Linked DNA regions of Homo sapiens. The protein of the gene in region 1 purifies or fractionates together with the protein of each later gene. This does not show direct contact. Each region holds a gene or a part of one and is shown in the gene's direction. Other genes may lie near its edges. The genes, in order: RSRC1, PHF20 and PRMT8.

Region 1 (3,228 bases):
AGCCCTATCATGCCATGGCTAAGATACGCAGAATGATATGCTCTTACAGTCCCCGTAAGGCAGTATAGACTACCAAAAATCAATGTCTTGAACCTCTTGGATTAGCGTATTTCCCACTTGCACTTGTGCAGAATATTGGGCTTTTTAAATGTTCTCAGTTGTGTAAAGGGTCAGTATAATATCACTTAGGGCCACAAACCATCTAGGCACAGTGTGTTGGAGACATACAAATGTTTGAGACTTGGCAAAAAAAATTGCTGACACCAAAATATGAGAATAAAGCTGCCAAAACAAATTGAATAAATATTTATTTAAATGTCTATAAAAGTTAATATTATCATTAACACTGGCATCATTGTTAGATTTAGTAGTCATAAGCATCTTAACATTTGAAAATAATTTATAGATTTCTCTTACTTTGTAAGAATTCCTAAACATACATGACTGCCCAGATATCTATCCCTCAGATATCTACCCCTTTTGTCCATGAGGGAATAAATCTGTCCTATGAATGCTGATCAGCTTCCATTAGAATAAAAATTAGAGTATTTTAATTGAATAAAACACATGCCTTAAAAAAAAAAAGTGGATCTTGATATCATCATCCCCAAAATAGCTCATAACTTGTCTCCTCTTCACAATCCACAGCCACCATTTAAATCCACATCATCATCTCATTCTTTAACTTTTATAGTAGCCCTCTGGTTGTTCTTCCTGATTTTCCTTTTGCATTTATCTAGTCCAGGACCCATTCAGCAGCCAAAACAATATTTTTCAAGAATAATTAGACTTTACTGACCATCTGACCATTACAGAATAACTGGTACCAAATTTGCCCTCCCACCATAAACAGCTATAGAACTTGACAAGATGTGTAAGACATTGTTTTCAGGAATGTAACAATAGGCAGCTCAGGAGGGTGATCCTTTGGAGAAGGGAAATAAAAGGTGAGCCCCACAGTTACCCAGCTTTCTGTATGAGGGCACTTTCCTGCTGTGGTGCTGGGAAGTGATACCCATGCAGAGTGGTGATGTGGCTGTGTTAAGGAAGAAATACCCCAAGTTCTGGCCTGCAGTGTCTCACTGTCTTTTTGCTCACTATACACCAGCCCCTCTGGCCTTTTTTCTGATCTTCAAAGACACCAAGCCCTTCTCTCTCAGGATCTTTGTCTTTTCCCTCTGGCCAGAGAACCATTCTTCCTTTTCACCTGCCTGGCTCCTTCTAAGTCTTCAGGGCTTAAATTTCACCTCCTAGAGAAGCCATCTCTAGCCACCCAATCTAAAGTAGATGTTTTTCCCTTCCTGATCCCCATCATTCTTTGTCAGCACCTTGTATAGTCCTTTATAGCACATACTACAATTTGTGATTATGCATTATTTTGGAATTTATTTGTTTATAATCTGTCAACTCCATTAGCAACATATAATTGCCACTTGGGACAGGAACCATATCTATTTGATTCTGCCTGTGTACCCAGTGCTTAGCAATTAGTAGTGCTCAATAAATACTGGTTAAATAAATGGATCTCCAACTCTAAAACAAATTAACCTAAGAACAGTTTAATTCATGCATATTTTATCCTCTGTATATTTTTCTTAGTGACATCTGTTTTTGGCTTTGTTCAGAGAAGTGAAATGTTCAGAATTATAGATAAGTTAAAATAAATGGAAATTGAAAAACAATAGGTGTGGAACAAATGGGTATAAAAAAGGCTACATAACAATCTCCTATTCATCTTGTTTTTTTTTAATTTTACTTTTTAATTTCAGCTTCTGATCTAATCCATTTCATATTATCCCTGTAACCTTACTGCTAATCAGTCACTCCTTGGCCTTCTTTCTTAGGGAAGAAGCTACTGAAATGTAACTAAGTAAGCACTACTCTGCTGGCTCCTTCAAGGCAGAAACAATGATTTATTAGTTGTATCCCCAGCACTTGGTACAGTGTATCGCACCTGGTGAATACTCAGTAAAGGTGGAATAAATTGGGAGTCTATGGTTTGCATGATGGTATAAGAAATCCTAGAGTTTTATTTTTTGCCAAAGATACATCGTACCTTTTTTTCAAACTTTTATATATATATTTTAATATTTTAAGTAGCTCCGAGACAACCTTTGAGTTCATCAACTGATGAATGGATAAATAAAATGTGGTAGATCCATACAATGGGACATTATTTAGCAATAAAGAATAATGAAGTACTGATACATGCTGCAACATGGATGAACCTTAAAAACATTATGTGGCTGGGCACGGTGGCTCACGCCTGTAATCCTAGCACTTTGGGAGGCCAAGGCGGGCTGATCACTTGAGGACAGGAGTTCGAGATCACCCTGGCCAACATGGCAAGACACCGTCTCTACTGAAAATACAAAAATTAGCCGAGTGTGCATGGTGGTGTGCACCTGTAATCCCAGATACTCGGGAGGCTGAAGCAGGAGAATCACTTGAACCTAGGAGGTAGAGGTTGCAGTGAGCCAAGATTGTGCCACTGCACTCCCACCTGGGTGACAGAGTAAGACTCTGTCTCAAAAGAAAAAATTATGCTAAATGAAAGAACCAGTCATGAAAGACCACATATTGTATGATTCCTTTTATCTGAAATGTCTAGAATAGGCAAATCCATAGAGAAAGAAGATTAATTGTTACCTAGGATGGAAAGGTTGGAAGGAATGGGGAATGATTGCTAATGGTATGAGGTTTTGTGGGGGATGATGAAAATGTTCTAAAGTTGATTCTGGTAATAATTGCACAACTCCATGGATATGTGAAAAGCCATTGAATTATGTACTTTAAAAGGGTAAATTGTATGGTATATGAATTCTATAACTCAATAAGGCTATTTTTCTAAAGATAACCTTTGAATTTACTTTTCATACCTAAATTGGCCAACTAAATGTTGGATATTTGTTGTAAGCTTGTTTTGATTAATAGAATTTAGATATATGAAATATATGTATATTTCAATAGTATAGGCACGTAAGTACCAATTTCTTAAGAAAAATGTGCTTATCATAAGAAATGATTGACATTTTCTCAGCATTTTTCTATTTGTTATTCCTAAAACAAATACAATATAGTTATTCCTATATTCTATTTCTATATATCTATAACTATATTCCTAAATATAGTTATTCCTAAACAAACAAATATAAAAATAAAATAACTGTATTTCTAAAACAAACAAATACAAAAAGTAGGGCCTTTTTGGAGATGGGTATCATCTCA
Region 2 (3,657 bases), on another chromosome or scaffold:
ATGTGGCCATTAGGAAGTACCAAATTTATAAAAATCACTGGAGGTCTGTCTGAGCAGTACCTAATAAAATATAGTATACTGAAAGTGAACAGATACTTTGTCTCTTTCTTTGGCTGCTTGATACTTTATCTGTGTACTGCCGTACAGTGCACCCTTAAAGTATTCTACACCAGTGCTTCTCAAACTTGAATGTGCATGTAAGTCACCCAGGGGTCTTGTTGAAATGCTGATTCTGATTTGGTAGATCTAGGATGGGACCTGAATGCATTTCTGATTTGCAGGTGATGCTGATGTTACTGAACTACACTTTTAGTAGTGAGGTTTCATACACGAAGACAAAGTTTCTCTGTGAAAATAGGAAGGTGGTGGTTAGCCTTATATTTTTTTATTTTATCTTTATCCAGACACACATCCCTTAAAAGTTTGTACAAGGCCATAGTCCCCTTTATTAGTTATACTCAATTAGTTATTCTAGCACATAGCTTTTTAAATATTGGCCAAAACTGGCTGGGCACGGTGGCTCATGCTTGTAATCCCAGCACTTTGGGAGCTGAGGCGGGCAGATCACGAGGTCAGGAGTTCGAGACCAGTCTGGCTAACACAGTGAAACCCTGTCTCTACTAAAAATAGAAAAATTACCTGGGTGTGGTGGCAGGCACCTGTAATCCCAGCTACATGGGAGGCTGAGGCAGAATACTTGCTTGAACCCGGGAGGCGGAGGTTGCAGTGAGCCAAAATTGCACCACTGCACTCCAGCCTGGGCCACAGAGTGAGACTCTGTCTCCAAAAAAAAAAAAAAAAAAAAGGCCAAAACTTCTCCAGGAGTTTGGTTTCTGTGTGTATATATATATATTTTGGGTGGGGACAGGGTCTCATTCTGTCACCCAAGCTGGAGTGCAGTGGTGTGATCACGGCTTACTGCAGCCTCAACCTTCTGGGCTCAAGCGATCCTCCCCTCAGCCTCTTGAGTTTCAGGGACCACTGGCACGTGCCACCACACCTGGCTAATTTTAAATTTTTTGTAGAGATGAGATCTTGCCATTTTGCCCAGGTTGGTCTTGAACTTCTGGGCTCAAGCAGTCCTCCACCTTAGCTTCCCAAAGTGTTGGGATTATAGGTGTGAGCTGCCATGCCTGGCTATTGCCAAATTTAAATGGTTACATATTTCTTACTTGAATGTGAACATAATTATTGATATAGAATCATTCTAATAAATACTGCATAGCCAGCTTGTCTGTCTGGTTCCTCATCCTACCATGAGTAGGGAGTCTGTGATACCCCAAATCAGTGGGTCACAGGTGTTGGAATTTCCAAAGAGTCCTTCTTGGTTTTCTGGGTTCTGGAAATGGGCCAGGAAAAGCCAGGATAAAGCTATGTTCCCCGACCTCGAATGGAAGCTTCTGGCTTTCTCTAAATGGGTGCTCCAGAAAGACAAATGCTGGGGAGAAGATGATATTCTTTGATGGTGATCATGCTTTATGATGATCTTTCTCCTTTTGTACCCACATGTCTAATCTATTCTAAGTCTCAAGTGGGTTTTTCCTTTTTTCAAAAAATTTTTTTGGAGACAAAGACTACCTCTGAAAGTGTTTTTCCTTTCTAAGTGTGTTGGATCATCTGTACCTATTTCCCTGGCTGTCACCTGTCTGGCCCTCTTCCACGTGATCCTGTTGCCAGCCCTAATCAGGACAAACCTGAATGACTAGACTATTTTGTGTCCCTGTCCTCCTCCAACCCCTATTCCTCACATGAGTGTCAGATCCTATTCAGTAACGGATTTGATCTGGATTTGGCTCTAGTCCTAGCTCTTCCATTTACTGTGAGACCTCAGGCAAGTCACTTAATGCTATGGGCCTGCTTCTCCCCATTTGTAAAATGAGGGGCTGATGATCTGCAATGTCCACCCTGGCTGAATCTTGGTCGCTACCTTGCTTAGAAACCCCATTGCCTGTGGTAGCTTGTTGCAGCAGATCTGATTTCTTTCATGTGCTCCCTTGGGCAGCCTGCCAGTTATTCCCTTGTCCAAGTCACTTCTGCCATTATCTTTTTTTCTAGCTGAGGCAGCCAGCTTGTTCTCAACCCAACTTCAGCGTTCTTCTTGCTTCCATGTCTTCTTCCAGTTCCATGCTGTATTTCATTCAGAACTACCTGAAATCCTCAAAGAAGTCTTCCTGAGTTCTCCATTCAATGTTTGTGACTTCTCTGCCTTACCAAGAAGGAGTCTGTACCTTATATACCCCGTATTTACTTGTCAGTTCTCTTATCTAATGTATACTTAAAAAGGGACTTCATTTCCTCCATACCACAGCTTTGTTTTTTGGTTTGAATTAGCAGGGCAGGTGGCATGAAATTTAAAGAGGAAGCAAGCAGGTTGTTTGCCTTTGGCTGGGATTTGGGGAAAGTATGAGATGTAATGTTTTTAGTCCCCTTCCCCAAGATCTCCTGTATCTGTGGGAATCAGTTGCCTGGTATGTCTTCCTGGATTGTAAAGGTGCTTAAACTTCCTTTCTGAAGTTTGAAAGTGTATCCTAAGTGCAAATACCATTTGACAATTACTCGTGGTTGGGTGGGTGCAGTGGCTTACGCCTGTAATCCCAACACTTTGGGAGGCCAGAGTGGGAGGATTGCTTGAAGCCAGGAGTTCAAGACCAGCCTGGGCAACAAAGTGAGATTCCTGTCTCTACTCCCCCACCAAAAACAAAAAAGTAGTCAGGCATGGTGGTGCGTGCTTGTAGTCCCAGCTCCTTGGGAGGCTGACGAGGGAGTTCAGAGTCTGCAGTGAGCTAGGATTGTACCACTGCACTACAGCTGGGTGACAGCACGAGACCCCATTGCTTCCAAGTGCTCTTCTAGGAACACACAGCCACAAAACCCAGAACAAGGAATTGTTAAGGATAATGATAAGAAATCTGTATTTCAAATAACTTAACAAATGAATAAAACCAACAGTTCTTTGAGAGCACCTGATTATTGTCAAAGACAGTTGCTGAGGGGGCTTGGAAGTCAGGACTTAAAGGTATATTTAACCTCTGGAGTTTTCTTCTTTCATCATCTTCCTAAGAAATAATAGGGAGGATGTTTACATTTTTCTTGATAAAGTCTTTTTATTAATTTTATTTATTTATTTATTTTGAGAAAGGGTCTTGCTCTGTTGCCTAGGCTGGAGTGTAGTGGCGCAGTCTTGGCTTACTGCAACCTGTGCATCCTGAATTCAAGCGATTCTTGTGCCTCAGCCTCCTGAGTAGCTGGGATTATAGGTGCGCACCACCATGCCCAACTAATTTTTTGTAGTTTTAGTAGAGACAAGGTTTCACTATGTTGGTTAAGCTGGGACATTTTTCTTGATAAACATTCTTTAAACCAAAATGTATGCTTAGTCAAGATCCTTGATTGGATTATGAGCCTAGAGAAAAGGAGGGTGATGTCTTTGTCTAATCCATCTTTGCCAGTGACTGCCCCTTACAGGCTATTGACTATAGGGTAACCTAATGAAAATTGAGACAGGCACTGTGGCTCACGCCTGTAATCCCAGCACTTTGGGAGGCCAAGTCGGATGGATCACCTGAAGTCAGGAGTTCAAGACCAGCCTGGCTAACACACAGTGAAACTCCGTCTCTACTAAAAATACAAAAAATTAGTCAGGCGTGGTGGCAGGTG
Region 3 (3,657 bases), on another chromosome or scaffold:
GGCGAGCGAAGGGCTTTGCTGCAGTGGGGTTGGCAGGGGGGTCAGGGGGCTTCATAGGCTCATAATATGTTCCCATGCCTGTGACCCTCATGCCTCCTCTTGTGTGGCACAGGACCTGCTCTCTGAAAGAGTGAGGACCTAAAAATGATCACTAACTTCAGATCCTACGGGCATCAGCTGACCCTGATGGATGCACTGGAGGCTCAAATGAGGTTGAGCTGGCCTGATTTGTTTAAAAACAAAAATGACCATTAATGAGAATGACTAGATTTCTGTAAGAACCACTCAAACCAAAAAGAAAAAATTCCACTCAAAACCATTTTTAAAAATCTGGATGTCTCACTTACAAACTTGAAGCTACAGGAGAAGTTTTCCCAATTTAGAGTCTATTGCTCCCTGCTGTGCATTTAGTTCTGATTAATCATTCTGTAATTTACCAGCCAGAGTCCTGTCATAGTTCGTTGAACAAACTTTCCATCATCCTTCTGGAATAAAAACATGGATCCGGACGGTGACCTCAGTGCAACCTTGAGTTGATGCAGTTTTAGTGACTTGGGGTCCAGATTGGGCATGGAGCTCTGCAGCCTACGGCTGCTCGGAATCTTAATATCAATAGCTTAGACCCCCTTGAAAATCCTTTGCATGGAGGAGAAGGGAAGACTGCTGCTGTGTGTGCCCACACACTTCCTTGAGCCAGCCTAATGCCCTATGTTGGCCAATAGCCCCTAGTAAGTTGGCATATGCCCCACCATGACAGGTAGCATTTTGTAGATTGGAAAATTGAATCTGGAAGTTTAAGTGGTTGCTGGTGGTGACTACAGACTGCAGGAAGAATATTCATGGTGATTCAGCTGGACAGTTGTATTTGGCTGCACAGAAAGAATGTGACCTCTTAAAAATAAAAAATAAAAGGACCCAGGAAGTGTTGAAAATGACAGTCAAACTGGAACTTGGAGGCACCATCTTTTTTTATTGATGCCAGCTGTCTCCACCAGTGAATCTTGCAGAATGCCTTACACATAACAAGTGCTCAGTACACATTTGAAGAACCGCAGCTTTCTGGCACTGCAAAGAATTTCAGATTCAACCTCCCTTCTTTTTTTTTTTCCTAATGAGGAAAATAAAAGAGAGGAGATGTTTGATTGAGATTAGCTGTCACCTGGAACAAGAGCGTAAGTTGCTGCCTTTTAGGATTCCAGCATAAAGTTGTGCAGGTTGAGCACAAAAGCACCGGAGAAAGGGGATAAATGGAGTCTAAAAGCCAGTCCAGCACTGGATTGAAGGGAGATGGGTCCTTTTCCTTTGACAAAGGGCTCATCTCCTCACCAAGCCAACTGTGGGGCCATGTCCACACTGAGAAATGTCTGCACTTGAATAGATGTAGAAGGGTGATGTTAAGAGAACAGAAGTCCAGACTGTTGAGGATTTTATAGGGTTAACTGATTCCTTCTGCCTTTTTGCAAGCAGAGATTGTGATTTTTGCTATTCTGTGACCCCCTATATCTAGCTATCATCTATCTGTCTTCTATATCGTCTGTCTATCTATCAATCATCTCTTGTAATCCATATTGATGAGGTTACAGCAACTAATTGATAAGAGGGCTAACACAGAGAACATGAGCAGCAGTAACTCTCTTTGGGGGACACCTGAGGAATATTTCATACATACCTGTTTGTTAGACTTGATGATGGATTACTCCTTGTCTGTTTCCTGCAGCTCCTAATAGAGTCCTGTCCACAAAAATTGTCATGGGTGGAGCCTTGTACTAAACACTCAGGGTAGAGGTCATGAGGCCCCGGAGGCAGGAGAAAACATCTTCTAGGGCTACAGAGAGGTCATGATATAAATGCAGGAGGAGGAACTGACCCATAGCCACACAGACACAGGCAGACATTAGGGAAGAACCTTCAAGAAACGTGCAAAGAAAAAAAAGTAAGGGAGGCCATTAAAGACAATTTTTAAGTTTACAAAACTAAGGCAAGCCAGGCTTTGCATGCAAATGATTAGGCAGGTGAGTCATGCATATATTTGTCAGTTCTCTTTCAAAATAAGAAATAAATTAGGCACAATGTTTGCATTTTAAAAAATCCTTTACTTTGCCACTCTATGAATTTTCTTAGTGCACCCTGGGCCCTGCTCTCAGTTGAGTTCCTGCCCTGGGGTCTCTGAGACCCAGAGAAACTTCAACACCTACCCCTCCCACTCCCACCAAAACTTTTGGAGAATAGCTCTTCCTGCTCATACTTTTTAATGGTAGGGGCTTTTGAGCAGTAACCAGTCAGGAGGGCCACCCAAGACTGAACCTCACTGTAGAGTGACCAGGGTCAATGCATGTGTACAAAGTGTCTTACTCCTTGTAGAGCAGGCTGTATCCAATTAAAGCTTGATTAAATACCACATAGTGGAGAGTAAACTGTTATTAGAAGCTGCTAATGGACACTCCATCACCTGCATTATTCACTGTGAAGAAACTAAATAAAGCCAGCAAACGGTGTGCTCTTTGCCATCCAGGAGCCTCAGTCCAAATTAATTTTCATGAAACTCAGATTCTAGGCAGATGTGGTTCTTTTGATTTTTACTCCTAAGTACAGGCCATTGTTTGTTTTTCCCAGCAAAGCTCAGGCATTGTGTGAGTTTTTTTCAGAGGATATTGCAGAATGAGAGTTTCAGAGCATGAATATATGTAACCTTTCAAAGGAAATGTTCAGAAAGAACAAACCAACCAATACATCAGCCTGCCAATTTAACAGTGGTATCTAAACTAGCTTGCTCAGATCTTTACAGCAACAAATACAAAAAGGGACTCCAAAATTATGTGTATGTCTATGTCAGTTTATCAAAAACTCAACTAAGAAGTGTCTCCTCCCACAGAGGAAACTGAAGTTCTTGAAGGTGACTCATAAGAAGAAGCCACTGGGGACAGGGGCTTTGACCCTGGCCCTATCTGCTTCCCCTCTCCATCTGTGGATCAACAAGCAGGAATATGTCAGATAATGTCCACCTTCTGTTGAGCTTTAGCTATGGGCCTGGCACTCCACATGTGTTATTTCATTTGATCAATACAATCACCCTCTAAATTGATATTGCTTTTCATGGTTGTTCACTTGGGAATTGGAGTTTAGTTAGGTCAAGTAACTTGTCTAAAGTCGTACAGCTAATGGTGAGAAGATCTGGCACTTAAACCTAGGTTTCCCTGACTGCAGAGCCCATGCTCTCATCAAAATATCAATTTCCTCCCTCACAAACACTAGAAGGGCACCCATTTGGTATTGAGCCTGGCTGTGAACAAATGCAAAAGCAATAGAGGAGGCATCTATGCTTTCTTTGAGTTTGAATTGTCATGGTAACCTAACATAGGGGTGGGGGCCTTGAGAAGAGTTTTAGAGTCATGTCATATCAGATCTGGGCTCTGTTTCCACTGCTGCTACTCAACCTCTCTAAGCCTCGGTTTCCTTAGTTGTAAACAAAAATAACAGTTGACCCCGACTACCACAGGGGTTAGGGGTGCCAATCCCCCACACAGTTGAAAATCCAAGCATAATTTTTGACTCCCACAAAAGTAAGCTACTATCAGCCTACTGTTGACCAGCAGTCTTGCTGATAACTTGGTCAATTAACACACATTGGCTGGCTGTGGTGGCTCATGCCTGTAATCC

Evidence for each region.
Region 2: the proteins of RSRC1 (region 1) and PHF20 purify together in Homo sapiens (co-immunoprecipitation; one large-scale study listed by IntAct). This does not show direct contact.
Region 3: the proteins of RSRC1 (region 1) and PRMT8 purify together in Homo sapiens (affinity purification with mass spectrometry; one large-scale study listed by BioGRID and IntAct). This does not show direct contact.

The regions. Positions count from the first base shown.
Region 1 is NC_000003.12:158,540,005-158,543,232, forward strand, and holds part of RSRC1 (serine/Arginine-related protein 53), read left to right. Parts: intron 1-3,228. UniProt on the Homo sapiens protein: Has a role in alternative splicing and transcription regulation. Involved in both constitutive and alternative pre-mRNA splicing. May have a role in the recognition of the 3' splice site during the second step of splicing.
Region 2 is NC_000020.11:35,774,970-35,778,626, forward strand, and holds part of PHF20 (PHD finger protein 20), read left to right. Parts: intron 1-3,657. UniProt on the Homo sapiens protein: Methyllysine-binding protein, component of the MOF histone acetyltransferase protein complex.
Region 3 is NC_000012.12:3,564,166-3,567,822, forward strand, and holds part of PRMT8 (protein arginine N-methyltransferase 8), read left to right. Parts: intron 1-3,657. UniProt on the Homo sapiens protein: S-adenosyl-L-methionine-dependent and membrane-associated arginine methyltransferase that can both catalyze the formation of omega-N monomethylarginine (MMA) and asymmetrical dimethylarginine (aDMA) in proteins such as NIFK, myelin basic protein, histone H4, H2A and H2A/H2B dimer.